4 linked regions of the Homo sapiens genome follow. The protein of the gene in region 2 interacts with the protein of the main gene of each other region in a biochemical or structural test. Each region holds a gene or a part of one and is shown on either strand. Other genes may lie near its edges.

Region 1 (7,865 bases), on a different chromosome or scaffold from region 2:
GAGGAGATGTCTGGGATTTCACTTTTTAAATTCCAGATTAAAAAGCAAAAAAAGAGTACAGCGGGGAGAGAGATGAAATTAGACAAAATGATCACTGGTAAAATATGGGAATTCATTCTGTTCTTGCTACTTTTATGTATTTTTGAAACTTTCTATAATAAAAAATTATTTTCAAAAAACAACTGAATAGGTGGCCGGAGCAAGGGTTGGGGAGGAATTTCACCACCCATCTTTTTGTAACTTTTGAATGATAATATATTTATATTACCTTTTGAAATAAAAGTTTTAATATTGTCAACATCTAACATATTAGATTTAATAAACTAAGCATTAACCAAAACATAATGGTACGTTTCTTCCCACAAAAATAAAGAAGGAGAATTAAAGACCCTGAACACCATGCTATTCAATAACTCAAGCTGTACGTGTGCAGGTGAGATTGCTCAAGGATGGCTGCATGAGACAGGAAGAAAGCAAAGGATGGAACTCAAAAATGCTAGTAATTAAAATACAGACAGTGGAAGGTGCATTTTATACTAGAAGCAATGGATAGCCATTTTAAATTTCTCTTTTGATAAGTCTCAACTTTGATGAAGTCCAATATATCCATTTTTTCTTTTATAGTTAGTTGTGTCTTCTCTTAGTAATCTTCGTATATGCCAATGTCGTAAATAAATTCACCTATTTTTTTCTAGAAGGTTTATAGTTTTAGCATGTCCACTTCTAACTATGAAATGAACAAGACTGATAATCTGGCCTATCAGTTTATAAGTTTTAGAATTAAACACCTGGTTATTTACAGCCATAAATTATGATAAATGAACAGAACTAACAATATTTGGTGGGTGGTAGGTCAAAAAGATTAACACAACATAATGCTGGTGAATTTCCAACTCCAGGCTTGTTAATTCATCCATGACATTATCGTGGTCTTTTCTAGGAAGACTTTACTAGTAAGAAAAGAACTGAAATCTTCTACTCTTTAAAAGTCAGACTACCAAAGATATTCCTGATACACTGTCTCAGACAGATTATTTGCTGAATGAATGAATAATGGATTGATACACAGTTTTGCTTTGACATAAGAAATAACTCTGAGATGCTTACAAGATTGTCACCTTTACTAACTTACATGAATATAACATAAAGAACTAGCATACCTGTATTTCTTCACGTTCCTTTTTATCTGGAAAAGTTCTTGCAGCTGTAGTATACTTTTCAAAAACTTTACGTTCCTTTTGTAGCTTCCTCATCTCCTCCTTTTTAAACTCTTCTATTCGAGCTAATTCTTTTGCTTTCTGTTGTTCGAAGTCTGCAATTTCTTTCCTAAAATGACCAAACTATGTTATCACCTAAGGAGACCATCTCAGTGCAGTGATGTGCAGAACCTGCTGACAGGCTAGTAACTGCTAGTCCTAGTGAATTCATCTTCAATCCATAGGCCTGAAATAACAGCCAATCCACTCACTAAAGCATTCATCCAATAAGCATTCATTGGGTGCCTACGATGAATCAGGCATTCGACGAAGTAGTGGGGAAACCACAGTGAAAAAAACAAACATTCTAGCTGGGCACAGTGGCTCAAGTCTATAATCCCAACACTGGGAGGCTGAGGCAGGCTTGAGCCCAGGAATTCAAGGTTATAATGAGCTGTGATCGCACCACTGTATTTCAGCCTGGGCGACACAGACAGACTCTGTCTCAAAAAAAAAAAAATGTATTCCCATGCAGCTTCTTACATTCTATTGGAAGACAGACGATAATAAAGATAAATAAGTACATGGAATATTAGAAGCATTAAAGAGAAATAAAGCAAGGAAGAAGTTTAGAAAATATCAGAGTGGGAGGGTGAAACTGTGTTGTATGTGAGGGCTTATCTTGCTGAGATAACATGAAGGAAACCTGAAGAAAATGAGAGAGCCAGTCACAAGGGTGTCCACACACAGCAGTACAGGCAGAAGGAGCAGCAAGTGCCAAGGCCCTGAGGCAAGAATGTGCCTGAGGTGTTCAAAGAACAGCCAGGAGGCCAGTGTGACTAAAACACAGTGAGCAAAGGATGGGTAGCAGGAGAAGGTGTCAAAAAAGGAGGAGACAGGCCAGGCACGGTGGCTCACTCCTGTAATTCCAGCACTTTGGGAGGCCGAGGCGGGCAGATCAGGCCAGGAGCTGGACCTGAGGTCAGGAGTTTGAGACCAGCCTGACCAACATGGAGAAATCCCGTCTTTACTGAAAATACAAAATTAGCCAGGCATGGTGGCGAATGCCTGTAATCCCAGCTACTCGGGAGGCTGAGGCAAGAGAATCACCTGGGAGGTAGAGGTTGCAGTGAGCCGAGATCGCACCATTGCACACCAGCCTGGGCAACAAGAGTGAAACTCCATCTCAAAAAAAAAGAGGAAGGAGGCCTTGATCAGATGAACCGTCCAAACGCAGGCTGGCTCTGGATGTGTGTGAAGAGCACAGACGCGGGCAGCAGAGAGACCTGCTAGGAAGTGAATTTAATAACCAGAGAAAGCCAATGGGGTCCTGGTGGAGAGTGGCAGCTCTGAGGCAGTGAAGCAGTCGGGTTAGAAATGGACTGAGAGAGCAAGAGAAGACTCAAGCATGACTCCAAGATTTTCCACTGGGCAAATGGAAGAGCAGACTCATGTGCTGAGACAGGGAAGAAGAAGAGAAGAGTAAGTTCAGGAGGGAACGTCAGGAGCTCACTTTTTCTAAATGATCAATTTAAACACTCATCAGCTCTCCAGGTAGAGAGAACAACGAGGCAGTGGGATAGGAGATGTGGGCGAGAGAACTGGATCTGGGGCGTAACAGCATTTAAAGCCTTGAGACCGGACAAGTCTCTCCCTGCCTCACTGGAGGGAGAGCAGACAGAAAAGGTAAAAGACATTCTTACTGACTATTCAAAATGTCGACCGTGTGCACACAATCATATAGTCAAAGCAAACACTGGGGGAGGAATACTTGTGGCACATTTGAGAAAGTTAAATATCCTGATAAATGAGCAAAGATCACAAAGAAAGTTACAAAATAAACACAAATGACCACTAAATATAAAAGCATGCTCAACTTTATCAATAATTAAATAAATACAAACTTTAGCAGGTGAAAGATGGCATAATTATCAGGTTGGCAAGATTTGAAAGACTGCTAACGCTCAACTCCAGTGATGGGGAAAGGGGTGAGAAGAAGCCTCAGATGCTGACTGGGGCAATGGACATTCTTAAAATTTATCACAAGGAAGTAGATTTTTAAATAAAAAGTGTCTTATACATATGACGATATTCCCTGCAGAATAATTTCTAATGTGGAAAATTCTAAACAAGCTAAATTTCCATTAACTGATTAGTCACAGTGGCATTCATATAATACAGTCATTTCAAGGATACAGAAGACTAGGGCGTGCTAATAGGTAAGATGTCTATTATGTTGTTGAAATGAAAAGCAAGGCTGGACATCGTAGCTCATGCCTGTAAGCCCAGAACTTTGGGAGGCCAAGGCAGGGGGATCACTTGAGCCCAGGAGTTCAAGACCAGCCTGGGGAACATGGCAAAACCCCGTATCTACCAAAAATACAAAAATTAGCTGGGCGTGGTGGTGCGTGCCTGTAGTCCCCGCTACGCAGGAGGCTGAGGTGGAGGATGGTTTGAGCCCAGGAGGCAGAGGTTGCAGTGAGCCAAGATTGTACCATTGTACTCCAGTCTGGGTGATAAAGCCAGACCCTGTCTCAAAAAAATAAAAATAAAATAAAAAGCAGATTAAAGAGCCCATACAGTAGAGCCCAGGGCTCTACTGAACCACACTGCCTAGGCTGGCACTGAGGCTCTCTGTCACTGACTAAGGAGGTAAACTTAAAAAACTTGCTTCTCAGTGCATCAGTTTCCTCATCTGTCAATTGGGAAGGATAACACAATGTCTAAATTCGAGGACTGAATTTTGCTTAGAACAAAGCAAAACCGAAATAGGGAAAATGCTAAAAAAAAACAAAAAACAACAACAAAAAAACAAAAACCCAGCCATTATCTTATGACTTAAATGTTCTTTAAAAGAAAAAGATGTCCGTTTTGAAATAATGAAGCAGAGACGTTTTAAAAGTGATCTTGGGTGGAGAACGGATTGGAATAAGTTCCACATTTTACCCATAACTACTATGATAAGCATACATTTACAGTATGTATCAGCTGAAAAACAAAGATGTTTCCATTAAAAAGTAACAAATTTTCAGAATTTGATTTTTAAGCATACTGCAGATTATAGTATAGTAACCGAATTTCCTTTTTAAGTGGATTAATAGCTGTCTATAAACCTTTATCTGGAACTTAGGGGCCAGATGTGCTTTAGAATTCATATTTTTCAGGTTTTAGAAAAGAAATACGGAAGAGATGTTAAGGAAGATGGTGGAGTAGGAAGCTCCAACAATCAGTCCCTCCACCAAAGCAGCTATTGAACTAGCAGCACCTGTCAGAATCAACCACTTCGGAACTCTGGACACTAACGAAAGACTTGCAGCATCCTGGGGAGTGCTAAAGAACAAAGAGGCTGGGAAATTTGGGTGAATTTCAGCATTTGCATAGCAGCTACCATCCCCTAGATCCCATCCCGCAGCAGGCAGCCATGGGAACTACAGTTGTATGAATTTCTCCTCAAACATTAAAATAACAAATACCAAAAAACAAAGAAATACGGTGTGTATGTGACATATAATATCCCCAACAAGACCCAGAGCAACACCTGGAATAAAAAGTACTAGTATGTTCCTGCAACAGAACTTAGTACTATTCACAAGTACAATTAAAAAATATGTCTACGTAAAATTTATATAGAGAGAAATAATAAATATAACATATATAAATAGCCTCATGTAAGTTCAGTTCAAGTTTTGCTAACCAATAAAGTCAGGTAAGATCATGACCTAGGGTAGGAGACGATATGTCATACTATCGACTGCTGTAGGTGGAGTTGTGTCCTCTAAAACAATATGTTGAAGTCCCAATCCCTGTGAATAGTGCCTTTGCAGATACAATTAAGATGCCAGTTAAGATGACGTTATACTGGAGTAGGGTGGGCCCTTAAACCAATATGACCCTATCCTTAAAAGAGGCACCAAGACAAACACACACAGAGGAGAATGCCATGTGAAGACACACACAGAGGGAAGATGGCCATGTGACCACAGAGGCAGAGACTGGAGTGATGTAGCTGCAATCCAAGAAATACCAACGTGTGCCTGAAACCACCAGAAGCTGGAGGAGCCAGCATGGCCCGCCTTGCTGATGCCCGGACTTTGGACTTACAGCCTCCAGAATCACAAGAAAATACATTTCTATTGTTTAAAGCCACCCAGTTGCTGGTACTTTGTTACAGCAGCCCAGAGAAACCAATACACTAACTAGCCAAAGTACCACTTGAAGGTACCATAGCTCCAAACTGTTTTTCAAATTTTAATTTATGATCTCTCCACTAAGAAAAATTCCCCTTTGTACACATCATTGACTACCCTGGGTCATTTTATTCAGTAAAAAAAACTTATATGATACAGATTTCACCTCCTTTTCAATTATATTTGTTTGACTGATTTAAATTGTTTCAGACTGTTTATAGATGGTCTTAAAGGTATAACTGAGTCACTGCATATTTTTTCCCAACTTACAGACCCAAACGTACCTGAGTTTTTCCAAGGCACTTTCTCGTTCAATGCGAAGTTTAGCTAAAGATGCGTTCTCAGCTTTAAACTTTTCTATTTCTGTTTCCAATTCAATAATTTTCTCTCTCAAAACCTGGGATCGAGCATTGTCACCTATGAAATAGGCCATAAATACTGAACTTCAAAAAAGGCATTACTGCAGCAAAAACACTAGCTAGCTAGTAACACTAAGAGCCAAGAATATGGCAAACATCTGTGCTATTAAAATGCATTAGAAACAATGCTTCAAACATGAAAAGGAAAAAAAATTAAACCTAACTTTCCTGAGGAAATCAGTGGGAATTTATGGAAGAATTAATCTACCTCAAAAGAGTATCGACCTGACAAGGAATCAACATGATACATAAAAAGAAATCATTCAAATCAATTTTTCAAAGACGAATATATATAAATAGCTTAAGAATAAGTAATCCACAAGAGATCTGAAGAGCTAATCAACACCAAAATCAAAGTTTACCCCTACTATTAATCAAATAAATGCAAATTGTTTTCCCTTTATCAAATTTGCTATTTAAAATGTAAAATAGCCAGTGCTTCTGTCCTTCAAGCATTTTTATCAATTAGTACTTTTTTAGAAACTAAATGTGATCCACAAGGCTAAAGAAATGAGCTAAGTTATACAACTCTGTCATATTAAAACTACATAGAAAAAATGACTGGAATGAAATATCCCAAAATGGCATAGCAGTTACTTTTGGGTAGTTAAGTTGTAAATATTTTTGCTTCTATGCTTTTTAAGCTTCCAAACTTTGTACAAAAAAATTACTTTTAAAATCAGAATTTTTGAAAATTAACGTTATAATTTCTATTTTAATTTCTATTTTAAAGCACCTATGCTCTGCTAGTTTATAATATAATATAATGGAAAGGAATCTTTCAGGGTGAGTTTAAAAAGTCCGTTACATCAACAGAAATACTACACATCCGTTAAATGGAATGAGGTAGGTGTGTACATGCGTTAGAACAATCTTCAAAATTTATCATAAGCAAGGTGCAGGACAGTATACAAAAAGAGTCTTTTCATTTGTATAGAAAGGTAATTATATACAAACTGACACATATGCTTTTATATGCACGGACTCTTTAGAATACACAAACGAAATGGTAATACTGGTACCTCTAGGAAGGGGTACTTGAACCAGGTCTGGGGAAGAAAGGAAACGTAGAAGCTTTGATGTTATCTCACTTTATTAAAAACTAATTAATTTTAAAGCCTCATATAGACCCATAAAATAAATCAAATTTTTACAAATCACCCATTAATTTGACTTAATTCTATTGAGCAATAAGGAAAGTTAGGATTTTAAGCATTCTGACAGCATACTGATTAATGTTAAATTTCTAACATTCTGATACATATTTTATAATGCTCTGACTCACCAGGTGGTTGGTCTTGACTTATGTTTAACTTGAGTTCATTTCCCAAGTGTGAATCTGACTTTGGTTTTGGTTTCAAAGAAGGAAAGAATTTCATCATCAGCTCCGATGTAGGAGGACTTCTGCTCCTCCTGGACTTGCTCAAGTCTTCTCCCCTCTTGACTGGTGCAATCTTCCTTTTTATTGTTTTGTCCAGGATACCTATTTCATTATTAGGGTAGCATGTCTGCGGCGTCCCATAAGTGGATTCATTCCCAAGAACAACATCATGGTTACACAAATTCTCTTCAAGGTCAGTCCAAGTTCTTTCATCATCAAAGTCCATTTTACTCAGACTTAGGGATGAGGATCTCGAGGGCTCAGACACTTTATGTTTTATGCTTTCCATGATAGACTCATCGCTACTGTAATCTTTATCAGACAAATCCAGATCAACATCTCTCCTTTTATCTTCTTGGGTCCTGGTGTCCTTAAAAGGCCCCTTATCATCACAGACTTGTGGGCTATCCTCTCTGCTGCTGATGCCCCTCTCTCTATCCTCAGTCGATGGTTTTATGGTAACATCAAGCTGTTCCTCAGAGTCAGTGCTACTGTCACTATTTGGAACACCTTCATCGTCACGTGCATTCCATTCAGTCTGATTTTCAGAAGTGCTCTTTTGGACGGCTTTCCTGATTTTACAAGGCTGTTCCCTCAATTCATCAGCTGAGGACAATGAATGAAGTTGTTTGGGTGCGACTTCACACTCACTCTCCTTCTCACGTGCAGTGTGGTCCAAATC
Region 2 (8,601 bases):
CTCAGGAGTTTGAGACCAGCAGTTTGAGACCAGCCTGGGAAACAATAGCAGGACCCCGTGTTTTAAAAACGAAAAAAAAAAGCTGGGCATGGTGGTGCACGTCTGTAGTCCCAGCTGCTCAGGAGGCTCAGGTGGGAGAATCACTTGAACCCAGGAGTTCAAGGCGGCAGTGAGCCAGGATCATGCCACTGCCCTCCAGCTTGGGCAACAAGGTAAGATCCCTGTCTCTAAAAACATATGTATACAGGGCCAGGCACGGTGGCTCATGCCTGTAATCCCAGCACTTTGGAAGGCCGAGGCGGGTGGATCACGAGGTCAAGAAATCGAGACCATACTGACCAACATGGTGAAACCCCAACTCTACTAAAAATACAAAAGTTAGGTGGGCATGATGGCAAGCGCCTGTAATCCCAGCTACTTGGGAGCCTGAGCCAGGAGAATTGCTTAAATCCAGGAGGTGGAGGTTGCAGTGAGCTGAGATCATGCCACTGCACTCCAGCCTGTGTGACAGAGTAAGACTCCATCTCAAAATAAATAAATAAATACACACACACACATACACACACACACACACACAGAGAGAGAGATGGCAAAGCAAGGGTTATTACAGAGTAGTTCTATTTGGTTGCACAATACAAAAAATAAGGAGAATAAAGGTGGAAAGGTAGATTGTAGCCATATTGCATAAGAACTTACAAGACATTTGGTATAAAACACTTAATAAATGTTGGGAGAGGCCGGGTGAGGTGGCTCACATCTGTAATCCCAGCACTTTGGGAGGCCCAGGGAGGAGGATCTCTTGAGTCCAGGAATTCAAGACCACCCTAGGCAACATAGTGAGACTGTCTCTACAAAAAATAAAAAGACATTAGCCAAGCATGGGGGCACACGCCTATAGTCCCAGCTACTAGGGAGGCTGAGGCAGGAGGATCACTTGAGCCCAGGAGTTTAAGGCTGCAGTGAGCCGTGATCATGCCACTGCACTCCAGCCTGGGTGACAGAATGAGACCCTGTTTAAAAAAAAAAAAAATTGTTGGGAGAATTTTGGTAAAACCTACAGATTAAAAACATTTATTTCTAAGCCTGAATTCAAACATACAAGGAAAAATGTATAGTTTTGTTGGTAGAAGACAGAGGAATCAGAAGGTTGGCATTCTGAACTTATGTTCAACAATGAGTTCACCTTTTTTTGAGACAGTTTTGCTCTGTTGCCCAGGTTGAAGTGCAGTGGTGCAATCTCGGCTCACTGCAACCTCCGCCTCCTAGGTTCAAGCGATTCTCCTGCCTCCACCTACTGAGTAGGTGGGATTACAGGCACATGCCACCACACCCAGCTACTTTTTTGCATTTTTAGTACAGATGGGGTTTCACCATGCTGGCCAGGCTAGTCTCGAACTCCTGACCTCAAGTGATCCACCCGCCTTGGCCTCCCAAAGTGCTGGGATTACAGGCGTGAGCCACCGTGCCCGACATAGTTCACTTTTAATAGTGCCAAAGATATACTGTACTTGTTTCCCCAGGTGTATGAATAATATCTATATTTACCTTAATTATAAGCTTCTTATAGAAAGCACACTGAATTAACTACTTTGATTCTAAGGCAATCTGGTGTTCAGTTATTACATCTATTTTTGAATCTGCCATTTATTGAGTGCTTACTGTACGCCAGATAGCATGTACGCTACATGGATTATATTAATAACACCCCAAACCAAAAATTTTACAACTGGCGAAGAACTGATTACACTTTCAATTTACAGAAAAGGAAAATGAAGAGTACATCAAGTTTCCATAAAAAGTAGGGGTTAGTGCTACATTAACAAAACTGGGACGGGAAGAAACATATACGGGCTATATATCCTGCTTTTGATTAAAGGGATCAAACCAACTAAAATTTTTGCCAGGACTGAGAATACAGAAAACAACAATGAGCAACAGCATTGACTACAGTACATCCTCAAGAGAGTATAAATCCACTATAATAATATCCAAGACACAAGACACAACCATTTCTTGCAATTTTCCCTAAAAACAGAAGGGAAGAAAATAGCAGCTGTGAAATCACCCAGACTACAAAAAAAAAAAAAAAAAAAAGCATCTGAAAAAAAAAAAGGAAAAAGAAAAAACTATCTCCTAATGAACAACTACATGCCAAAAAACAAGTCTCCACAGACTAGTCATTTATGGCAGGGTACAGGGTACAGTTAAAGAAACAACAGGATGACAGTCGCTATCATGTGGCCAGAAACCAGTCCATCAGCAATCTGTTTCACGTGAGATCACTTTTTCTCAAGAGAATGCCTGTTCTTGGGGAGCATGACCTGTTTTGGCAAAACCTCCCCAGGAATAATGGCCTGCTGGTCAATCTCGGAGGGCGAGCCCAGACCCGGCCTCTCCACAGGTACAGCAGCCCAGCGAGCACGGAGGAAGATTTCCAAGCCGACAGATGCGCGAACTGAAAAAGGAGGTCACGACGCTGAGAGAATAGATTTAACCCTCTGCTCGCTGGGAACCCAGAAGACTAAGGGGGAACATGTTTTTCAATGATGCAGGCGTCGGTGGCGGGAAGGCCTGCGAAGTCTTGCCAGGGCTCCCTGCAGTCCTCAGATTCCGCCTGACTTCTGCAGACAGCCCAGCTCCCTCGCCAGGAAGAAATCGCTCCGCGGCTGCACGCAACACCTTCACCGTCTGAAACCTGCGATTCTCCGCATTTGGTTTCCTCCCGAGGCTCCTGCACACCGCACCGTGATTGACGCACCCGAGGGGACCGTCAAAAATACATCTCAAGCCTAACTTTCCAACACTCCCGCGACGCAACCCCTTCCCCTTTCCTCAGCGGCTCTGGCCCGCCCCTCGCTCCTCGGGCCGCGTCCCGGCTGGCGACTCGGCGTGCACACGAGGCTCCTCCGCGGGAGAGCCCGCGCCCCGGCCCGGGGCCTGTCGGGGGTTGCAGACAAAGAGGCTGCAGCGCCGCCGCGGCCGCCAGGACCGTCCCCACGGGGACAGCTCCACGCCCACCGCCCCGGCTCCCGCGCCGCCGCCGCCGCCTCGCCTCACCGGTGGCTCCGGGGCCGGGCTCCTGCGCCCGCCACTGCTGCAGCCCGACGAACAATGGCAGGAGGAGGCGCCGGCGTCCGAGGCTCGGGCCCTCTGCGGCTCGCGGGCCCGCCGGCTGCTGCTGGCTGACTGACTAAACGCACCAGCGGAGGGAGGGAGCGAGCGAGCGACCCTGGCGCGCGCCCTCCCGCCTTCCCTCTGCGAGGCGAGGCCAGCCCGGCCCGCAGCCCGCCCGCCGGCCCGCGCCCCTCCCCCTCAGTTCGCCACAACATTGTAGTAAATTTCTATTGGGCCGCGCCGGAGGGAAGGAGGGGGCCGGGCCCGCGGCCCGTCCGCCCATTGGCTGAGGCCAACTTCTAGCTCCCCTTGTTTCCCCCCTCCCCTAGGCCGGTAAGGAGAGGAGAGGGGAACGAAAAAGAGAGAGGAAAAGGCAAGGGGCTGGCCGCGTGTGCGCACGCGCAAGTCGAACCCGGTCTGGAGCCGGGGTGTTCCGGGATCCCGCAGCACCCACGTGGGGCATGAGGCAGCTAGAGCCCTGGACGGTGAGGCCCTTTCCTCCTTCCAAGTAAGAGGCCGAGATTTGGAAGCCTCAGGGAAGTAACTCGCGTAGAGGTTGTAGCCAGGCTACCCCAACTGACTCCCCCTAAACGCTTAGTGACCTCGGGTAAGTCACTCAGCTTCTCTGTACCTCAGTTTCCCCATCCACTAGTTTGACTGTCTCTAGGCGCCCTTCCAACCCTGACATTCGATGAGACTTTACCTCTCGTGCCAGCTGTGTAAGGCCTGAAATGGAAGCTAAGTGTTGAGACCACGCCAAGATTGAACCTGTCTTCTGCATTTAAGGATCTCCTAATTCCCCCCTGGCAATCTCAACATTATAAAGACCTAGCTTCCGAGGTCTGGTCTCCAGATGAACTGAGGGTTGCTCTGACAATTGCTTAGTGTGTCTTTATTTCCTTCCAGAAGTGTCAGAGACCCCTTGACCCTTCCTACTCCCTGCTAGGCTGGTCTGTGAACAGGCTTCGGACCCACAGTGCAGAAAGAAGGCTTTTGTTTTAAGCATGATACCTAGAAGGTAAGATAGGATCTGGTGTTCTATTTTAGAGATGAGGAAACTGAAGCAGAGAGACTTAAAACTGACAGGATAAGAAGCCAGGCCATCTGACAGCAGAGTCTGTAGATGCCAGCTAGACATTCCTGATATCTAATCACAGCCCCTTCACGATCCCAGCACAGCCTCTGGAAACAGATTGCCTGGGTTCAATTCTTAGTCTCCAGCCTTTTCTAATGGTTTGATTTTCATTTTTCTTTTATTTATTTATTTATTTATTTGAGACGGAGTCTCGCTCTGTCACCAGGCTGGAGTGCGGTGCCGGAATCTCGGCTCACTGCAACCTCTGCCTCCCGGGTTCAAGCGATTCTCCTGCCTCAGCCTCCCGAGTAGCTGGGACTACAGGCGTGTACCACCACGCCCAGCTAATTTTTGTATTTTTAGTAGAGACGGGGTTTCACCGTGTTAGTCTCGATCTCCTGACCTCGTGATCCGCCCTTCTCGGCCTCCCAAAGTGCTGGGATTACAGGCTTGAGCCACCGCGCCCGGCTGTGCCTCATTTTTCAACACCATAAAAGGGGATAATATGTCCAAGTAGCTGGGACTCCCACCTATAGTGGGAGGCTGAGGTGGGAGGATTGCTCAAGCACAGGAGTTCAAGGCCACAGTGAGCTAGGATCATGCCATTCCACTCCAGCTTGGGCAACAGAGCAAGACTCCATCCCTAAAAACAAAAACGAGGGTTGGGGGAGGGAGAAGGATAATAATAGTTCCCACCTCACAGAGTTACTGTAAGAATTAGGCCAGGCATGGTGGCTCATGCCTGTAATCCCAGAACTTTGGGAGGCTGAGGCAGGCGGATCACCTGAGGTCAGGAGTTCGAGACCAGCCTGGCCAAATGGTGAAACCCCATCTCTACTAAAAATACAAAACTTAGCTGGGCCTGGTGGCAGGCACCTGTAATCTCAGTTATTCTCGGAGGTTGAGGCAGGAGAATCACTTGAACCCAGGAGGTGGAGGTTGCAGAGAGCCGAGATCATGCCATTGAACTCCAGGTTGGGTGACAAGAGCAAGACTCCATCTCAAAAAAAAGAAAAAGGAAAACAGAATTAAATGAGTTAAAATATGTAAAGGACTTAGAGCAGTGCCTAGCTCATAGTAAGATCTATGTGTGTTAATTATTATTACTATTCAGAGACTAAAATGTGGACTGAGAGGTGTGGAACTGGCAAATATAATAATATATTTGTTAAGCATGCAATTGTTGTTAGCACTGAGCTGAGCACGTTATGTAAATTGTCCATTTGAAACATCATAAAACCCCTTGAAAACCACCTGACTATACCATCTAAAACACCCTCCACTCAAACACCCTTATCCTGCTTTAATTTGCTTCATAGCACTTACCCTACTTGACTTTCTACTATATATTTATTATTTATTGTGCCTCTCAAATAAATTGCTGTAATCTAGACCCACTAGACTGCAAGCTCAGGAAGGCAGGGACTGTATCTGTATTCATCTCCCAGAACAGTATACGCTCAATAAATATTTGTTGAATGAGTTAATGAACATCCTCATTTTACATATAAGGAAACTGAGTCTTAGTGAGGTCAGGTGACTTGGCCAGGGTCATTCTGTGTATGAGGGGTGAAGCACCTGTTTTTTTTTGAGAAGGGGTTTCGCTCTTTTTGCCCAGGCTGGAGTGCAATGGCACGATCTCGCCTCACCTCACTGCAACCTCTGCCTCCCAGGTTCAAGCGATTCTCCTGCCTCAGCCTCGTGAGTAGCTGGGATTACAGGCATGTGCACCACGCCTGGCTAATTTTGTATTGTTAATAGAGATGGGGTTTCTCCATGTTGGTCAGGCTGGTCTCGAACCCCCAGCCTCAGGTGATCCACCCACCTCAGCATCCCAAAGTGCTGGGATTACAGGCATGAGCCACCATGCCTGGCCACACCTGTTCTTAAATACTCTGGTCTCCTGCCTCAAGTCCTCAGGTTCAGCTGTGCTTTTTATTCAGAGTTCTAGTCCTACCACCTCTGTGCCTCAGGCTTCCTTCACCAATCAGACAGGAAAATCTGGTACCTTGAAGGATGAGTATAGAAGACCAATTACCAGTGGTTTACCATCTCCACCACCACCAAGTTATCCAGCAAATTCAGATTCATGAAAGCCCAGTATTCTCTATGCCATGAAGTGCTAGCCAATGGCACATCTAATTGGATGCAAAGAATATGTAGCATTTAATAATCCTTACTCTGCAAATAAGTAGAGGTCTCAGGCTAACAGCAAAAGGCTAGACACAAGGCAGGTATGAACTACTCTGAAATTCAGAGTGCCATGCAATAACACACCATAATCCATTGACTCAGGCTTTAGAATCTGAAAGACCTGAATTCCAGTGCTGGCTTTTAATTCTTAGCCTGGAGATGAAAGGGCTTTGTAAACTGTAAAGTACTATCCACACATGAGGAATTTTTGTTATTTTAGACACACATCTTCAGTTGTTAGGCTAAGTGCCCAATCTCTGAGTGTTGCCAGGCCTATCACATAGGAAGATGTGGGGGTATAAGTAATGCCTAATATGAAGGTGGAAAAACTACCTTTACTCCTGGGCCCATCTGCCCTCTCAGACTTCTGCAAACCAGGTATCCAGTCCCAGCTCACCCTGCAGAGACTGCCATCAGGTACCAAGGGTAAAGGTCCCAAGCACCGTCTCTGAGGCTAATTTCCAAGGCAGAAACAGCTCTGCTCCATGCTCACATCTGGGTGGCAGCTGTGCTATGCCCCAAGCCCCAGGATGGGGTCCCTAAGGACCATCTCTATCTCGCCTGCCAGCTGAGCCCACCATTACCTCCCCACCCCCTACCCCTTGTGTTCCTTCCTAGGGAATACAGGCCCCGCTAGCTGCCTGTTAGCCCCTGGAGCAGTCAAGGGCAGTAAGCAAAAGAGAAAAAGAAAAAAAAAGACAGTGTGAAAGGGTCTTAATCCTTCCCCACAGCAAACTGAGCCCAAGCAAAAGCAAACACCAGCTGCACATAAGAGGGTGAAATTAGATGGTGAAATTAGGTGGTGACCAGTGGGGAAGGCCAGGGAGTGTAGATGAGGCCTCAGATGACCTGGTAGAGATGAGACTGGAAGAAAGCGGGGAGGGGCGGGGAAACCATACCCAAATCTGGGACGTGGGCGGATTAGGGACACAGCTGGCCTGAAGCCCTGTGTCTGTTGTGGAGGGTGGCAAGAGATTGAAGAGGGCTTTGAAAAGCTGGGCCCACCAACAAAGTGTTCTGAACAGTACTGTTGAATGAAAACTGATGCTGGTACCAAAAGTATATGAAGAGTAGTGCTTGCCATCCTGCCTATGGCAGGATAAAAAATCACAGTTATTTTAGACTTGTAAACACAAATGATAAATCAAACAGGCTATAATGGGATGGGAATTACCATTCATACAGTGGGATGGGGATTAATTTTACTAGTAGTACTTGAATTGTTCATAGAAAATTTAGAAACACAAGAAAAAATGTAAGTCACTATAAAGCCACCAGTCAAAAATAACTACCATCAATATTTTGGGACCTTCCCTTCTAGTACCTTTTCTTATACGTACACTTTTTTTTTTTTTTGAGACAGTGGTCTCACTCTGTTACCCAGGCTGGTGTACAGTAGCATGACCACAGCTCACTGCAGCCTCGACCTCCTGGGCTCAAGTGATGTGATCCTCCCACCTCAGCCTCCCAGGTAGCTGGGACTACAGGCATGCCATCATGTCCACCAAATTTTTTAATTTTTTGGTACAGACAGGGTCTCATAGTGTTACCCACACTGGTCTCGAACTCCTGGTCTCAAGCATGAGACACCACACCCACCCTTATGTATACTATCTATCTATCTATCTATTGTATTTATCTATTTTTGAGACAAGATCTCACTCTGTCACCCAAGCTGGAGTACAGTGGCACAATCATGGCTCACAGCAGCCTTTCCCTGAGCTCCAGCAATCCTGCCTCCTCAGCCTCCTGAGTAGCTGGGACTACAGGTATATGCCACCACACCCAGATAATTTTTTATTTTATTGTTGGTAGAGATGAGGTCTCCCTATGTTGTGGAGACTAGTCTTGAACTCCTGGGCTCAAGCAGTCCTCCCACCTTGGCCTCACAGAGTGCTGGGATTACAAGCGTGAGCCACTGCACCCAGCCTTATTTTTATTTTTTTATTTATTTTATTATTTATTTATTTTTTCAAGATATAGGGTCTCACTCTGTTGCCCAGGCTGGAGTGCAGCTGTGCAATTATAACTCACTGTAGCTTTGAACTCATGGGCTCAAGCAAACCACCCACCTCATCCTCCCAAGTAGCTGGGATTACAAGCACAGGCCACTGTACCTAGCTTCTTATTTGTGTACTTTTCAGTGTACATATATTAAGTCATATGAAATTGCTGATTTTATAGGTTAAAAATGATCAAATGTGAACAATTTCATATGT
Region 3 (7,865 bases), on a different chromosome or scaffold from region 2:
GGGCAGCTACCTCCTCCTGGCCTCCCTGCCCAGGGCACTGCTGGAAGGTAGGATCTTCAGCCTCCACCCAGTGGGTGCTGTAGGAGAAGACTCCTTGCTTTAACACCTCTGCCTACCCAAGATACCTCTTGAACTTTGTGAAGGTTTGGGAGTGAGAGGAAATCCTGCCCTTTGATCTCCTCAACAATACACTAATGAGAGGAACTACATATCAGGCACTGTTCTAAACACTTTCTACTGATGAACTCTCTTCGTCTTTCCAACAAACCCAGGAAGGAGGTACTATTACTATTGCTGTTTCTGAGATGGGGAAAACGAGGCACAAGGAAGCTAAGTAACTGGTCCAGGGTCCTTCACACTAGTAAAGGGGTACAGCTGGGATTTGCACCGTGCTCCTGAGTCCCCGTTCTTAACCATTCTGTGTGCTGCCTCTCCAAGGAAGTGGTTGCACCAGATCCCCTGATTGAGGCTGGCCCTGGGGACAGTGAAACCTCACTCCTAAGACCTCAGTGGGGCTACACCTATCTCAGGGGCCCTGGCATCCCCAAATGCAACAGCCACACACCAGGCCCTCCACTCCAGCTGGAGGACACTTCCCTAAGAGGTCCCCTTTTGGATGAACCAGGGGCCCAGCCAACCCTGGTGTTCTGTCCCCAAGCCCTGCAGGGCTGGCCTGGGATTGCGCAGCCAGCCTACCTCTCCCTGCTGCACTGGAAGCTGGGGGAGCCCTCAGCAACAGGGGCCCCCTTGCATTTGCCCTTTCTATCACACCAAGCTCTGGGGCACCCTACGGATCTGCGGAGGGCACTCCAGTGATGGGGCAGGGGTCTGAACAGTAGAACTTGGGGGCTCTCCAGCTCCCATGTGGAAAGGCTGAAGTGCCCGGTGGCTAAGTATGTGGGGTCTATAGCTAGACTGCCAGGGTCTGAGCCCTGGCTCCACTTCGTACCTACATGTTCCTGGGAAACTTATGGGTCTTCTACCTCTCCCTTTTCTCATCTACAAAGTGCAGGGAATATTAGTAGCTGCCTCAGAGGACTGCCATGAGGGTCCAGCGGCTACATACATTGCTCAGAAGAGCACCTGGTGCTAGAAAAGTGCTGTGCGTGTGTCCACTAATAGTACTGCACAACTGGAGAAACTGCAACCGTATAGTATTGTATGCATTGGCCTTTTGTGAGGATTCAGTTTAAAGAATGACTTCTGAAGCTAAGGAACATCTGAAAGCCACTGCTCCCAGCCCTGAGCTCCTGGCTGTCTAAGGAGGCAAAACCTCCTGGCACTTATCCTAGAGGTTTTCCTGCTGACAGCCAGGTGGGGACTGACACCCAGGGCTCCTGGAAATTGGTAGCAGGTGGGCGGCAGGGGGCTGAAGGTACCTGGACACCCAGCAGGTGGAGCTCCCGCTCGAAGGCTGTGTGCACCCGGTGGAAGGACTCGGCCGTGCTGGCGTCCAGCCCCACGTCCTCGGGCAGCTCGCGGTGCTTCTCGTCGATGAGGCCCAGGATCTCGGCACCCGTGTAGAAGTAGCGGTGCAGGTCATAGGAGGCGGCCAGCAGCTGCATGCGCGTGTCAATGAGCTCCAGGAGGTCTGCCCACATCTCGTTCAGCCCGTCCTTCCACTCGGCGATGGTGGCCGCCTCGCTGTGGCCCGCGTCGATGAGTCGCTCGATGAAGGCATTCACATTGTCCACCCGCTCCTGCCCAATCGCCCCGGTCTCCCGGGCAAAGTCCCGGAACTTGTCCCGCAGAAGCTAGGCATGGGGCAGACAGAAATGTGGTTATGGGGGGCACAGGGGTTACAGGTGTCACCAGCTTAGCCAAAGACTTTCCCAGGCAGCAACTGCAGCTCCGGGAGCTGCGCTGTCACACCTTCCCCAGGGCAGGCCTGCATCGGCTGGTCCCGCCTCACACTGGGGAGGTTACGTCCTATGCAGCACTCTGTGTGTCTTGAGTGACGGCTGGCTGCGTCTACCGCATTAGAGAAAGACAAAAACAGCAGGAGTTGTGGCTACTCACAGTCACGTGGTCAAAGTCTTGCCCCATTTCCGGGGAAGAGGCCACTAGCTCCTTTTCTGAAATCCACTGCTCCAGGTCGTCGGTCTCCCGCTTGAGCTGGAACAGGTGGTACATGTTCTCCAGCTTGCGCTTGCGCTCTTCCGCCACGTCCTTCAGCCCTGCGTAGTGCTTGTCCACTTGCCCCTGAAGTCTGATGATCTGTTCCCTGGAATTCAAAACCAAAAAGGCCCTCAGAGACGGCAGCCACGAACCCAGAGCCGTGGCTCCAGGGAGCCAACATATGCCAACCACAGCCCCCTGGCAGGGATAGGTAGGGAGTGAAGCTCTGGAGAAATGACAGGGGCTTTGCCGGGGAAGAGCTGGGGAGAGAAGGGGCCACACCCTAGCCTCAGGGGATGACACACTGTGTCCTGGAATTCTGTCCTGGAGGGGTGCTTCCCATGGTGCCCCTCACTCTGGCAAGCTTACAGGGACAAGTGCAAATGGGGAACGCCTCCATTGTTCTTCCAGAGAGGCTGGGGGAGCAGCACTACCTGAGTGGGGCTCCCGCAGCAACAGCTCTGCTCAGCCCTCCAGGGAGGGAAAAGACATACTAGGGGCCCAGACAATGTGGCTCCCAGGGAAACCTCTGGGGTGGCTGCTGAGGACCCACAGTGGTGGGCACCCTAATGGCAGCTGAGGACAGGGCCATGGCTGGGGGCAGTGTGTGGTCTGTGGCCCAGTGGGCTTCCATTTATGCAGGATCCACAAAACCTCGCAGCCCATGTGGGCACAGGTTTCCACCTGCACTCCTACATCATGGTTCTGTCTGGACTGTGAAGTCCTGGAGACCTTCTGGACCATAAAAATAAAAGCTAAAGTAGTCTTCAGTGTCCCTTAGCATATTGTAACCCTTCGGAAAATTGGTGCTCTCAGGTCACCAAGAGGGTAGTTTTGCTAACCCCTTCTCTGATCATTTCGAAAACCAGGGCCTCGATGGCCCAGCTGGAAGTGATTCACACAAAACCAAGGCATAAAATGAAATTGGATCCATCACCAGTCCCGCAGCAATTTTCTCCAGCCCTATTTGATGGGAAAACTCTTTCCATTTTCCTTTTAAATCTGAAGGGACGTTGGCTGGTGGGCCCCTGGCTCAATCCCCATCTCCTGACCGAGTCACCACAGGGGGCGCACGCACCCCTCAGGGTGGCCTGCAGACAGCAGGCCCTGGGCCCGGCTGGCCAGCTGCTTGATGTTCCGGCCGTAGTCCTCCACCGCACGCTGCTGCCGCAAATGTCGCTTCAGCATCACAATGGCGCCCTCTTCATCCTAGGAGGCAGCAGACGGTCAGCGCCAGAGCTCAGTCTGGCCATGATCCCTCCCTTGGCAAGTTGTGCCCCCACTCCTGGAGGTGCCCGAGGGAGGAGGGGAGTAGGCTTGTGGGACACCCGCAGGAGAGCCACACATGCTTCCTTCCTGCCCTTCTGATTTCCCAGCAATGCCCGTGCCCTACCTTCCTCTCTGGACTCCCCTGATTCGTATCCGACATATACCCTTCCTTTTGTGCTCTAACCCCTGTCCCCATGAAAACATCCTATATCATTCCAGCTTTGAGAGACCCCCACCTGTCACCTCTCACCCCATCTCTTTCATAGCGTACAGAATCCAGGGTAAAGAAAAGTAGAGAACCCTTGGGTTAGAGCAAACCTAAGTGGGTAAACAGGAGGCACCTGGCTTCAGTGTGTGCCCTGCAGGGGTGTGTTCAAGGAGGCACCAAGGGAGGGCAGGGAGTCTGTGGGTTCCTTGTGCCCCTCCCCTGGCCTCACTCCTCACACAGTTGGACTCACAAGGCTCCCTACCGACAGCCAACCTCAACTCTTCCTCTCTGCCTGGGCACCCTGGCTGGTATCCCCTGCCCGAACAGACCTTGGGGATCTCATCGGAGATGACGTAGAGCTCCTGCTCGCCAATCCAGGCCTCAGCCTCGTCTGCATCCAGGTAGTACTGCTGTGCCTCGTTGGCGTCCCTCAGTCGCTGCAGCCTCCCGGCCGCTGCCTCCCGCAGCCTGTCCCAGGAGCTCTGCAGGTGCCCCAGGCGCTCCTCAAGGTCCTGGCAGTCGATCTCCGCCGCCTCCACCAGCTGCTGCCCTCTCTGCAGCACATCCTCAACCCGCGGCGTATGGCCCAGAATCTCATTCTGCAGTGTCTGCGGCCAGAAGGAAGGGCTCGGGGCAGGGCCTTCCCACCATGCGGGGGAGGCTGCTTCAGCAGTGGCAGCACAGCTCTGACACCCTTGGTCCCTCTCACCCCCGTTGCTAGAGCAGAGCAGGTGATGGCGATAAGAACTACCAATGACCTCTTGCGGGCTGCTAAGCACCTCATGTGCACCATTCTTGCACCCTCAGGTGGCCTGCTGAGATAAGCATGTGGAGACCAGCATGCAGCAGTGAAGTCACTCAGTGGCAGAGCCGGAGTTGAACACAGCTCCACCTGACCTGGCAGCCTGTGCTCTTGACTGTCCCCTATCTTCCTGTGCTTCAGCAGAGCTTGATTCCTTAGGTGTATGTGTTGGAAGGAAAAGAAAAATGGCCTTTTTGATACCTTATTCTAACAGCTTTTGCAGGATTTATGCAGGATCATTTACGCAGGATACGCCCAACCCAGCAGCTCAGGTGGGCACAGTTTTTGCCTTCCATCTAAAAGAACAGGTGACAGCAGCCCCTTGCTTACAGTCTCAGCTTTTGTTTTTCCCTACTTCTATTTCTCATATTTTTGTGAGCTTTGCATTAGTCCCTGTTTGAGCCTTTGGTCATGAACACAGCCTCTTCCTCCCACCCTGGTGGCTGGTCACCTTTTTCTTCAGGAGGCCCTGACACGTGTTACTTGTTTTCTGGGTCCTAAAGACTGGGCTAGCTGCTGCTGGTGTGTGGGCTCCTGAGCTCCATATACCTCACTACCTGTTTCTTCCCTCTCTATATAATTTTCCTGTGGCCTTTAAAATTGGAAGGCAGGGGCAAGAGCAGCCCACATGAGCAGCACAGTGATGGCCAGCATTTAAAATATGCACAAAATAACCACATCTACAAGTCACATAACCTGCTGAAATGCATTTTTACACTTTATGCTCAGAACCTCAATTTTTACAATTTCCTATAGTCTCTGCAGTTGCATTCAAACAACCCATGTTTTCAGCTCCATTTGCTTGTTTACTCTGAGATCTTATGACCTCTGCATGGTGCCCTAAAAATTAATTTCTTTTTTTTAAGATAGGGTCTCACTCTAGTCACCCAGGCTGGAGTGCAGTGGCACAATCAGCTCACTGAGCCTCAACTTCCCAGGCTCAGATGATTCTCCCACCTCAGCCTCCCAAGTAGCTTGGACTACAGGTATGTACCACCACATCTGGCTAATTTTTTGTATTTTTTGTAGAGATGGGCTTTTGCCATGTTGCCCAGGCTGGTCTCAAACTCCTGGGCTCAGGCGATCCACCCGCTTCGGCCTCCCAAAGTGCTGGGATTACGGGTGTGAACCACTGCGCCCGGCCTAAAAGGGTATTTCTTCCTTTTTAACCAATTACTTTCTAGTATCTGTGCAGGGTACTTACATTTAAAGTCTTCTTCCCTGTCTTCATTCATTCAACAACTATGTATTAAGTTCTTTTCTATGTACCAGACCCTGGTCTAGGTAATAGGGACAATATAGAAACAAGAGAAATGAAAATCCCTGCACTTTAAAGCTTACAACCTGGTAGAGGAAATAGAAGGTAAACATGCAAATAAATGAATAAACAAAGGCTGGGCCTTCCTCCCTGGGGGCTACGAGGAAAAGACAACAGTGGGATGGAGAATGTCTGCTGCGATGTGGCAGGAGCCACTTTAGCTAAGGGAGTCAGGGAGGGCCTCTCTGAGGATACGAAACTTGACCATGACATGAATGACGGGAGGGAGGCAACCACACAGAGATCTGGGGTTGAGTGTTCCTGGCAAGAGGACTGAACAAGTGCAAAGGCTCTGGGGTGGACATGAGCTGGGACCGTCTGAGGCCACAGAGAGGGCCAGAAGAGCTGGAATACTGTGAAGGAGGGCAAAGTGAGAAGAGCTGAGTTTCAGAAGCAGGCAGGGGTCAGGTCAGGCAAGAGTGGTTCTTAATCCTGATTGCCCACTGAATAATCCAGGGAAACAGATGCAGCTAGGGGCCTACCCCCAGAGATCCTAATTGATCTGAGGTGAGACCTGGGCATTCATCTGTCTAAAAGTTCCCTAGGTGATGTGAGTGTACAGCCAGGGGTGAGAGCCCTTCATGTACTACCTTGTGGAATTTGTTCTAATTGCAATGAATAGCCCTGGGAACAGTGGTCCCCAAAGTGCAGTCCTGAACCAGCAGCATCGGCATCACCTAGGATCTTGTTGGAAATGCAAATTATTAGGCTCTACCCCCAGAGCTTGATGCAGTAGGGATCTGGGGGTGGCACCTGGTTAAGTCGTGTAAACTCACCCAGAAGGCTTGTTAAAGGAGTTGCATATTGGAGTTTGACAACCATTGCAACAGAGGGTTTTAGGTGAGGAAATGATAAAATTGGATTTATGGTTTAGCCAGGTGAGCCTAAAATAGTCTTCATTAGGGCAGTCACGCTGTCCCAAGAGGCTGCCTTTCCCTTCTTGGTTAGGGGAACCCCATCCGTATTTGTCTTGCCCTTTTCCCGAAATAGCAACTGCCAGCCAGGGGAGTTAAAAACCTTTGAACAATAACACTTACAGAGGCTGCATAGAATCAAAAATCCTAGTGTTGGAAAGACTAGAGTTGGCTCATTTTACAATTAAGGAAACTGAGGTCCCAAGGATACCATGTCCTACCAGCCTTCCACCTTTAGCTGAAGGTTGTGGCATTAACTGAGGCTAGATTTCTATCATCTTCTAGCCCAGGTCCCTGCGTGTGGCTGCTGGAGCCTCTGCGACTAGATCATGTCAACCAGAAGCAAAGGGCCTAAGGCAGCTTTGAAGAAACTTCTCTGAATATAATCTAGGCCTCTGCACTGCTGCTGGGCTCACATGGTCCTGTGAGCAGATGTCAGCTGCTGCCAAGCTGGGGGAAGGGAGTGCTGTCTGCCATGACCTTCCTTCCTCAAGGAGCTGCAATACTAACCGGGCACTCTGGGACATGTCACTTTTATCTGGGATCTAAGTTCCTGGGCTCTCCTTGCTGACCCAGAGAGCATGCAGAGGGAGGGTCTCTCTGTCCAAGAAGGGTCTGTGGCCATTCCCCTGGCCGCTGCGACCCCACACAGCCAGCTTCCTTACATGATTCAGGCTCCCACTGCAGCCCTGACCCAAGAGGGAGTGCTTGGCATCTGCTCACATCCAGGATCCTGACCAGGGCCACAGGAGTTCCCAATCAGGGCTAAGCGAGTGCCAAAAAGCAGAGGGATGTTTGCTCCAAGGGCTCAGAGTCCAAAGTTAGTGGCTTCCTAATGGAATTTGAGCCCCACAAGTATCCTCATATGTCGAGAGAAATGGGGCCTACTTACCCCAAGGACACCACACATGCCAAGCTCAGCCCTGGAAGAGGGGCAAGGCAGTGTTGTGGGAGAGAGATCAGGAGTTACTGCCCTCCTCTCAGGCAGACCACTGGATACACCGAATACACAGCTACTGAAGCACATCAACCTCCAGGCCAGGCCCCCGAGATCCTGCATTCACCTGTGCCTGATGGAGGCTGAATGGCCCTGAATCCCCAACTACCTCCCCTCCTCTGTGATCCTCCCAGAATTTGCTCTGTAATCACAAAAACCTGCTCTTTCTGCTATAAGATTACCAATACGGTTTGGAGACCCCAAAGCTACCAACAAGAACAATAATCTGCTGTTGCTAG
Region 4 (6,044 bases), on a different chromosome or scaffold from region 2:
CAGCAGCACAACCTTGACCAGAGCTTGGGTCCTACCTGTCTACCTGGAGTGAACAGTCCCTGACTGCCTGTAGGCTGCGTGGATGCGCAACACACCCCCTCCTTCTCTGCTTTGGGTCCCTTCTCTCACCAAATTCAAACTCCATTCCCACCTACCTAGAAAATCACAGCCTCCTTATAATGCCTCCTCCTCCTGCCATTCTCTCTCCACCTATCCATTAGCCTTCCTAACGTCCTACTCCTCACACTGCTCTACTGCTCAGAAACCACCAAGACTGTTGATGCCTTAGCCTTGCACTCCAGGGCCCTACCTGCATTTCCCACATGACTTTCTGGAAGCCTCCCAACTATTCTTGCTTTTCCCAGACAGCTCCCACTCCCATGTCTCTGCTCATTTAGTCCCGTCTTCCTCACCGCCCCAGCAGGGGAACGCTCAAGCCTGGTTGAAATGCTGCCTCTTCAGTGAAGTCATCCTCTTTCAGCTCTGGCCGCATTCTGCAGACTTCCTATCTTCGTGCTGTATGTTTTTTTTTTCCCCCTTCACTCTAATGGACTGTTCCAGGGAAGGGATGGGGGCAGCAGCTGCTTCGGATCCACACTGTATCTGTGTCATCCCCACATGGGTCCTCATAAAGGATTATTCAATGGAGGCATCCTGACATCTGTTCATTTAGGCTTCAGTTCCACTCCCAGGAACTTTGCCTGTCCCACGAGGGAGTATGGGAGAGAGGGACTGCCACACAGAAGCTGAAGACAACACCTGCTTCAGGGGAACACAGGCGCTTGAAAAAGAAAAGAGAGAACAGCCCATAATGCTCCCCGGGAGCAGAGGCCACTAATGGAGAGTGGGAAGAGCCTGGAAAGATGTGGCCTCAGGAAAAGGGATGAGAGAAAGGAGGTGGTATGGAAGACTCAGCAGGAACAAGGTAGGCTTCAAAGAGCCTATATTCCTCTTTTTCCCACACCGATCAAGTCAACTCAGTACTCACGGGAGAAAAATAGACTTTATTTACAAGTAATAACATTTAGAAAAGATCCATCCCCGGCCCTTAAAAACCTTCCCATCACTCCAAATCCCACCCCAGTGCAAGTCTGGGGAAGGTAGGGTGTGAGCTGCTGCTGAAGGCTGTCCCCCAACCCCACTCCTGAGACATAGGGCCCATCCGTCCTGGGAAAGAGCATCCTCTGGCAGGTGCTCCCACCAGGTCAGACCCAGTCCTGGACTTCAAGAGTGAGGGCCCCTGCTGGGCCCAGCCACCAGGACAGCAGGAACCAGGGCCTACTCCTCTTATGGTCCCTTCTAGATCCAGAGGCTAAGAGGAAGACTGGCCAGGCCCAAGGACCCAGCCATCAAAACCAGCCTCAAATCTGGTTGTGATGGAGAAGTGACTTTGCTTTAAGAAAAAAGGAGGCAAGGTAGGGAGAGCGCCCACACTGTCCATGCTCCAGGCCCCCTGGGCCAGCTCCGAGAAGGCGCCAGTGAAGGACCAGGGACCAGGCCAGGGTGCGGGCAGGCATCACTGTCTCTAGGGGTTTGGCTACTGTTGGCCTGGGAGCTGAGAGAAGGCACTGAGAGGGACAGTAGGCGGAGGACCAGGTGAGGTCAGCATCGGGGACACAGGTGGGGCCACTCACTGGTACTGGCCCTTTAGTGCTTTGCCTGAAAGAGACACAGTCACATGGCCAGATGAGAACTTGCGATACTAGCCTGCACCCACTGGCTGGGAAGATCTCTTCCTGCTCCCACGCCCCTGTCTGGATCCCCTCCCTTGTGAGCCCCAGGGTTATCAGTTGCTGGCTGTGCCTGAGCAGCTCTGGGTGCTCTCCATGAGAATGGGGCCATCTGTCTTCTCTCCTTGGAGAGGAGCTACCAGGACAGGGACACCTCTTACCCCACACCCTCCAGCAGCCTGGCGTGGCCCCATCTTGGATGCTACTTGGTGGGGCGGTCTGGGGGGTGCCCATGCTCTCATCGGGTTTCCCTCCCCCATCCTGCCAGTGCCTCTACCTTGCCCTTGGCTCGAGGGGTGGCACCAATGGCGGCAGCAGTGGCGGCGCTGGCTGTGGTGGTGGCAATGCGCGGAGAACGGCGGGTTCCACTGCGAGTGTTGGGGGAAGCCTTGGACAGGGCCTTCTTTGAGGCTCCCCGCCGCAGAAGGCTGTTCCCTAGCTTCTTGGGTGTGTTGAGGATGCTGAAGGCCATCGACTGGCGCCGGTCAGCCTGCAAGGAAGGGCTGTCAGACCGGGAGACCCAATGCTGCCTTCCCAGGCCAGCGTGCTGTGCCACGCTCTATCAGCAAGGTCCCGCCAGGGCGTCGCTTCATCCCCCTTCAGCCCCAGCCTCACCTGTTTAGTAGAAGCTGGAGCTGCTTTCTTCTGGGCCTCAGTAGTGCTCTGTTTGCGCCCTTCATGTCGGTCTCGGGGAGTCATGGGGCGTGGGAAACAGCTGGTGGCCTTCTTAGACTATGGAGAAGAGGACAGTTAGGCAGACAGTAGCAAGAGGAGTCACATCTGAAGCCAGGTGTCTTGTCCTCTCAGAGCTGAGTGGACCTTGTAAGTCAACGTGCAACCTGCTCCCCTTCCCAACTCTGGGCCAGATCCTTCCCTTCCCAACAGTTCCCATCCATGGGTCAGGCCCTTGGAGAGAGGGAAAGAGAGGGGGAAGTGAGGGAAGGAGAGAGAAGGCTCCCTTTAGTCCTTGGTGAGCTGGGCCTGACCTGAGCACAGTGCTGGAGTAACACCCAGGAGCCACCGCGCCTACCTCAGGAGTTCCAGGGCCCTGGTGGGGCTCTAGGGAGACCCGTTTGCGCTGCTGCCGGGTGGTGATGCCAGTGCCCTCGGCTATCTGGATTGGCTGCATGCTGGCTCGGCGCAGGGTCTCTTGGGGGTCTCCAGTTTTCATCTCCTCATCTGTGATGGTGCCCAGGCTCAGGGAAGGCTGCATGGGTGGAAGAGGTGGTCAGTGGACCATAGCTGTATGGAGATGGAGGAGGACCTGGGGCTGTCCCAGAACTCTACACTCGCCCGACACTTATGGTCGGGACCCTTCCTGCCTCACGAGGTAGAAAGACACAAGGCCTCCTTTCCTGTTCTGCTTTCTACCTAAGCCCTGGGCAAATGGCCACAAGCAGTGCAGTCCTGACCAGATTCCTCTCTGAGCTCCTGCCTACCCCAAGGGACTTCACCCCTGAGTGCCCTCCCAGCTGTCTGTTCCACCTGGAAACATGAGAAGGTCACCCTCCCCCTCCTCGGCCAGTCAGTGATCCAGGGCCCTAGTGCTCAGGCTAGATCAGCAGGTGGGATTCCAAGGGAGGGCAGGGATGGGAGGCCCTGCACAGTGACCCCAGGCCTCACCCTGGACTCCAGGGGATAGCAGGTCTTCAGATGTGGGGGGCACACTCGATTGCGCTGCTGCAGCTCTGCAATGCGGTTCCAGTCATCCAGCTGCTCAGGCTCATCCTGGCAAGTGCCCATGTAGAAGCTGTTCCTTCCTGTGGAAGGCAGGGAAGTGGGAACAAATGAGCCTGGAGTCGGCAGGTCACCTCCTGGCCCTGGCATCTTGCCAGCCTTTGCTGCCACCTACCCCATAAACTTGAAGCCCAGCACACCAGTCTGATTCAGTGCCGCAGGTGCAGGAGTACGGCACACAGACTATTTCTATCCTAGGGGCTTGCTCACCACCTTCTCCCTGGAGAGGGCAGAAGAGGTCACACGCAGAGACTGCTACTACATCTTACTCACCTGCCAAGGCTTGGTGGCCAACACCCAGAGGAACAAATTAAGGACCGGGAATTAATTCCCAGGGGCTCCCTGGTGCCCAAAGGACAAGAGCTTCCAAGAAGAGTCTGGCCAGCCTGGCCTTTCCAGCAGCCCATCACCGCCTGAGAAGGGCATGGAGGACTCCCCACAGCTAAGTGTCACAATTGTGCTGGGAATCCCGGGCCCTTAACTCTGGCTAAGAGTGCCCCCAACACAGCCAGCCCCTAGATGGGCAGGTAAGGAAGGCCCTGAGGCTGCAGGAAGGAGGGGCAGGTGGAGCTGGATGGTAGCAAGGAGGCCAGCCTTGGATTTTTAAAAAGCTTTCCTCTTTTCCCTGTGCCACGATCCACCTTCCAGTCTAATTTTGGGGTATAGTAAGTCCCTGTAGTCCCCTCACCTGGAGGGGCCCCACTGGACACCCCGGCCTGGGAACGACGAGCAGAACTGCGAGTGGTGGGGCGGTAGCCAGGCAAGCTGAGCAGGGCTGAGTTGCCATAATCGGGAGAACCCAGGCGAGCTAGAGACTGAGTAGAGGAGGTGGCTCGCAGGCTAGCCTGGGAAGCAGGAGCAGACCGCGTGCTGTAGAACGATGAGTTGGCGCTGTCTGGCTCTTCCACATCTAGCTTCTGGAAGACAGAGTGAATCTGTTGCAGTGTACAGTCCCTGGCACTGTACAGAAGCTTCCCATTCCCTTCCGAAGCCCTCAGATCCCACGGCACATCCATGTATTCCCAACTGCTTTGCAAAGGTCCTTAAAGTGTGTGTCTGCAAGAAATGGGCCTTGTCGACAGAAGCCCTCACAAGGTGGTGCTGATGTTGTCAAGACTCTTCTACGCATTTTTTTCATGGAGTCTATTCATAATGCTTTGAGGTAGGGAATGCAGAGTGTTTATCGGCCCATTTTGGAGATGAAGTGCAAAGAAATAAAGTGACTAGCCCCAAATCACACTGCTAGGAAGTATCAGAGCTGGGGCTAGGCCCCATGTCTCCTGACTAGTCAGGCTCATCCCACAGCCTCTGCTGTCCCTCAGTCCAAACTTCCAGGGCCCTTACCATGTTCCAGAACTTCCCCAACTTCTTGGTAGCAGGGGGCACCCTAAACACACAGGTCCCCCCTGCTGTACCAGGGGCCCCTCTCCCCTCCTCCCAAACCTCCCCTTCAAGATGTGGAAACAAAGGCAAGGGCCTGTAGCCTGTCAGGCAGTCCACTGGGCAGCAACAATGCCTCTCAGCTGCATGGGGCATGCTGGGAGGCACAGGATGGGCTGCAGCTTCGCCACGTTCTCTCCCTTCACCCTGCACAGGCTCAGTGCTACGCATGGAGAGAATGCTAGCCTTAGTCAGGAGGCAGGGATCTAATCCTAGCCCTGCCTTTTTCTTCAGAAGTGCCCTTAACCAAGTCACTGCCCTTTTTAAGACCTCTCAGCTTTCCCACTGTAACATGGACTGGCTGCTCATCCCTCCCTGCTCCTGACTGAGTGCCCAGTGCAAAGATGCCCTTGAGAGGAAGTGGGAATTGCTGCCCTGCAGCCCCTGTCCCAGCAGCCTGACCTTGGTCATGGTGATGTTGATGATCTGCGTGGTGCGCCGACGAGCGGAGCGGGTCTTACGACCCGAGTCCAGGAAGACGTCTCCCAGGGAGTCCAGGCTGCTCTCCAGGGGGGCCTGACTCCGAGCAGGGATGGGAGTGAAGTAGAGACTCTCCAGGGATTCTACCTTGGGGGGCAGGCGCTGGGAGATAGGTGAGGCTGGTTCTCCAGGGACGCTGGTGCCGTCTGGCTGGGTACGAGGCAGCTTGCTATGGAAAGGAAACCTGCTGAGGTACAGTCCTTCACGCTAGAAGGCATTTTGTCCAGCCCTTTTTGAAAGTGACCATTTCCCATCCTTACTACAAGCAGATGAGGTCAAGCAGCCCATCTCTCTGATTTTTCAGAGGTACCAAGGAAAGCACTTGACCTGGGCCTTCCTTTCAGTCCACTCCCCTGGCTTCTCCTAATAGCTCCTCATAGTGGCAATGCCCAGACCCAGATGTCCCATCCCCACCAGATGCCCATGGCTGCTTCACAGCAAACACGTCCCAATCTAAGCCCACTTCTCTGTTCTTCCTCCTGCATCTCCCATTTCAGTGAATAGGAACGCCCCCCACTCAGGCCCCCAAGCCATGAACGTGGGCATAATCCAATGTCGTCCTGCTTGGCGAGCCCAATCACCAAGCTTCCTGAACAGCTCCTAACCACACCCCACTCCATGCTCATGTCCTTTCCCTGGTCTGCTTCATCTCCTCTC

Evidence for each region.
Region 1: the proteins of EPB41 (region 2) and CPAP form a complex in vitro, tested with the Homo sapiens proteins (one study listed by BioGRID).
Region 3: the proteins of EPB41 (region 2) and SPTB form a complex in vitro, tested with the Homo sapiens proteins (one study listed by BioGRID).
Region 4: the proteins of EPB41 (region 2) and NUMA1 form a complex in vitro, tested with the Homo sapiens proteins (one study listed by BioGRID).

Annotation. Positions count from the first base shown.
Region 1 is NC_000013.11:24,898,259-24,906,123, forward strand, and holds part of CPAP (centrosomal P4.1-associated protein), read right to left. Parts: coding exon 7,088-7,865; intron 5,801-7,087; coding exon 5,668-5,800; intron 1,327-5,667; coding exon 1,161-1,326; intron 1-1,160. UniProt on the Homo sapiens protein: Plays an important role in cell division and centrosome function by participating in centriole duplication. Inhibits microtubule nucleation from the centrosome. Involved in the regulation of slow processive growth of centriolar microtubules.
Region 2 is NC_000001.11:28,909,225-28,917,825, reverse strand, and holds the start of EPB41 (protein 4.1), read right to left. Parts: upstream 3,258-8,601; 5' UTR 3,058-3,257; intron 1-3,057. UniProt on the Homo sapiens protein: Protein 4.1 is a major structural element of the erythrocyte membrane skeleton. It plays a key role in regulating membrane physical properties of mechanical stability and deformability by stabilizing spectrin-actin interaction. Recruits DLG1 to membranes.
Region 3 is NC_000014.9:64,771,201-64,779,065, forward strand, and holds part of SPTB (spectrin beta chain, erythrocytic), read right to left. Parts: intron 4,552-7,865; coding exon of another isoform or gene 4,450-4,551; exon of another isoform or gene 4,219-4,449; intron 4,204-4,218; coding exon 3,925-4,203; intron 3,328-3,924; coding exon 3,197-3,327; intron 2,225-3,196; coding exon 2,020-2,224; intron 1,755-2,019; coding exon 1,380-1,754; intron 1-1,379.
Region 4 is NC_000011.10:72,001,880-72,007,923, forward strand, and holds the end of NUMA1 (nuclear mitotic apparatus protein 1), read right to left. Parts: exon of another isoform or gene 5,557-6,044; coding exon 5,310-5,556; exon of another isoform or gene 4,385-5,309; coding exon 4,156-4,384; exon of another isoform or gene 3,666-4,155; intron 3,491-3,665; coding exon 3,354-3,490; intron 2,938-3,353; coding exon 2,761-2,937; intron 2,463-2,760; coding exon 2,346-2,462; intron 2,221-2,345; coding exon 2,008-2,220; intron 1,660-2,007; coding exon 1,648-1,659; 3' UTR 985-1,647; downstream 1-984. UniProt on the Homo sapiens protein: Microtubule (MT)-binding protein that plays a role in the formation and maintenance of the spindle poles and the alignement and the segregation of chromosomes during mitotic cell division.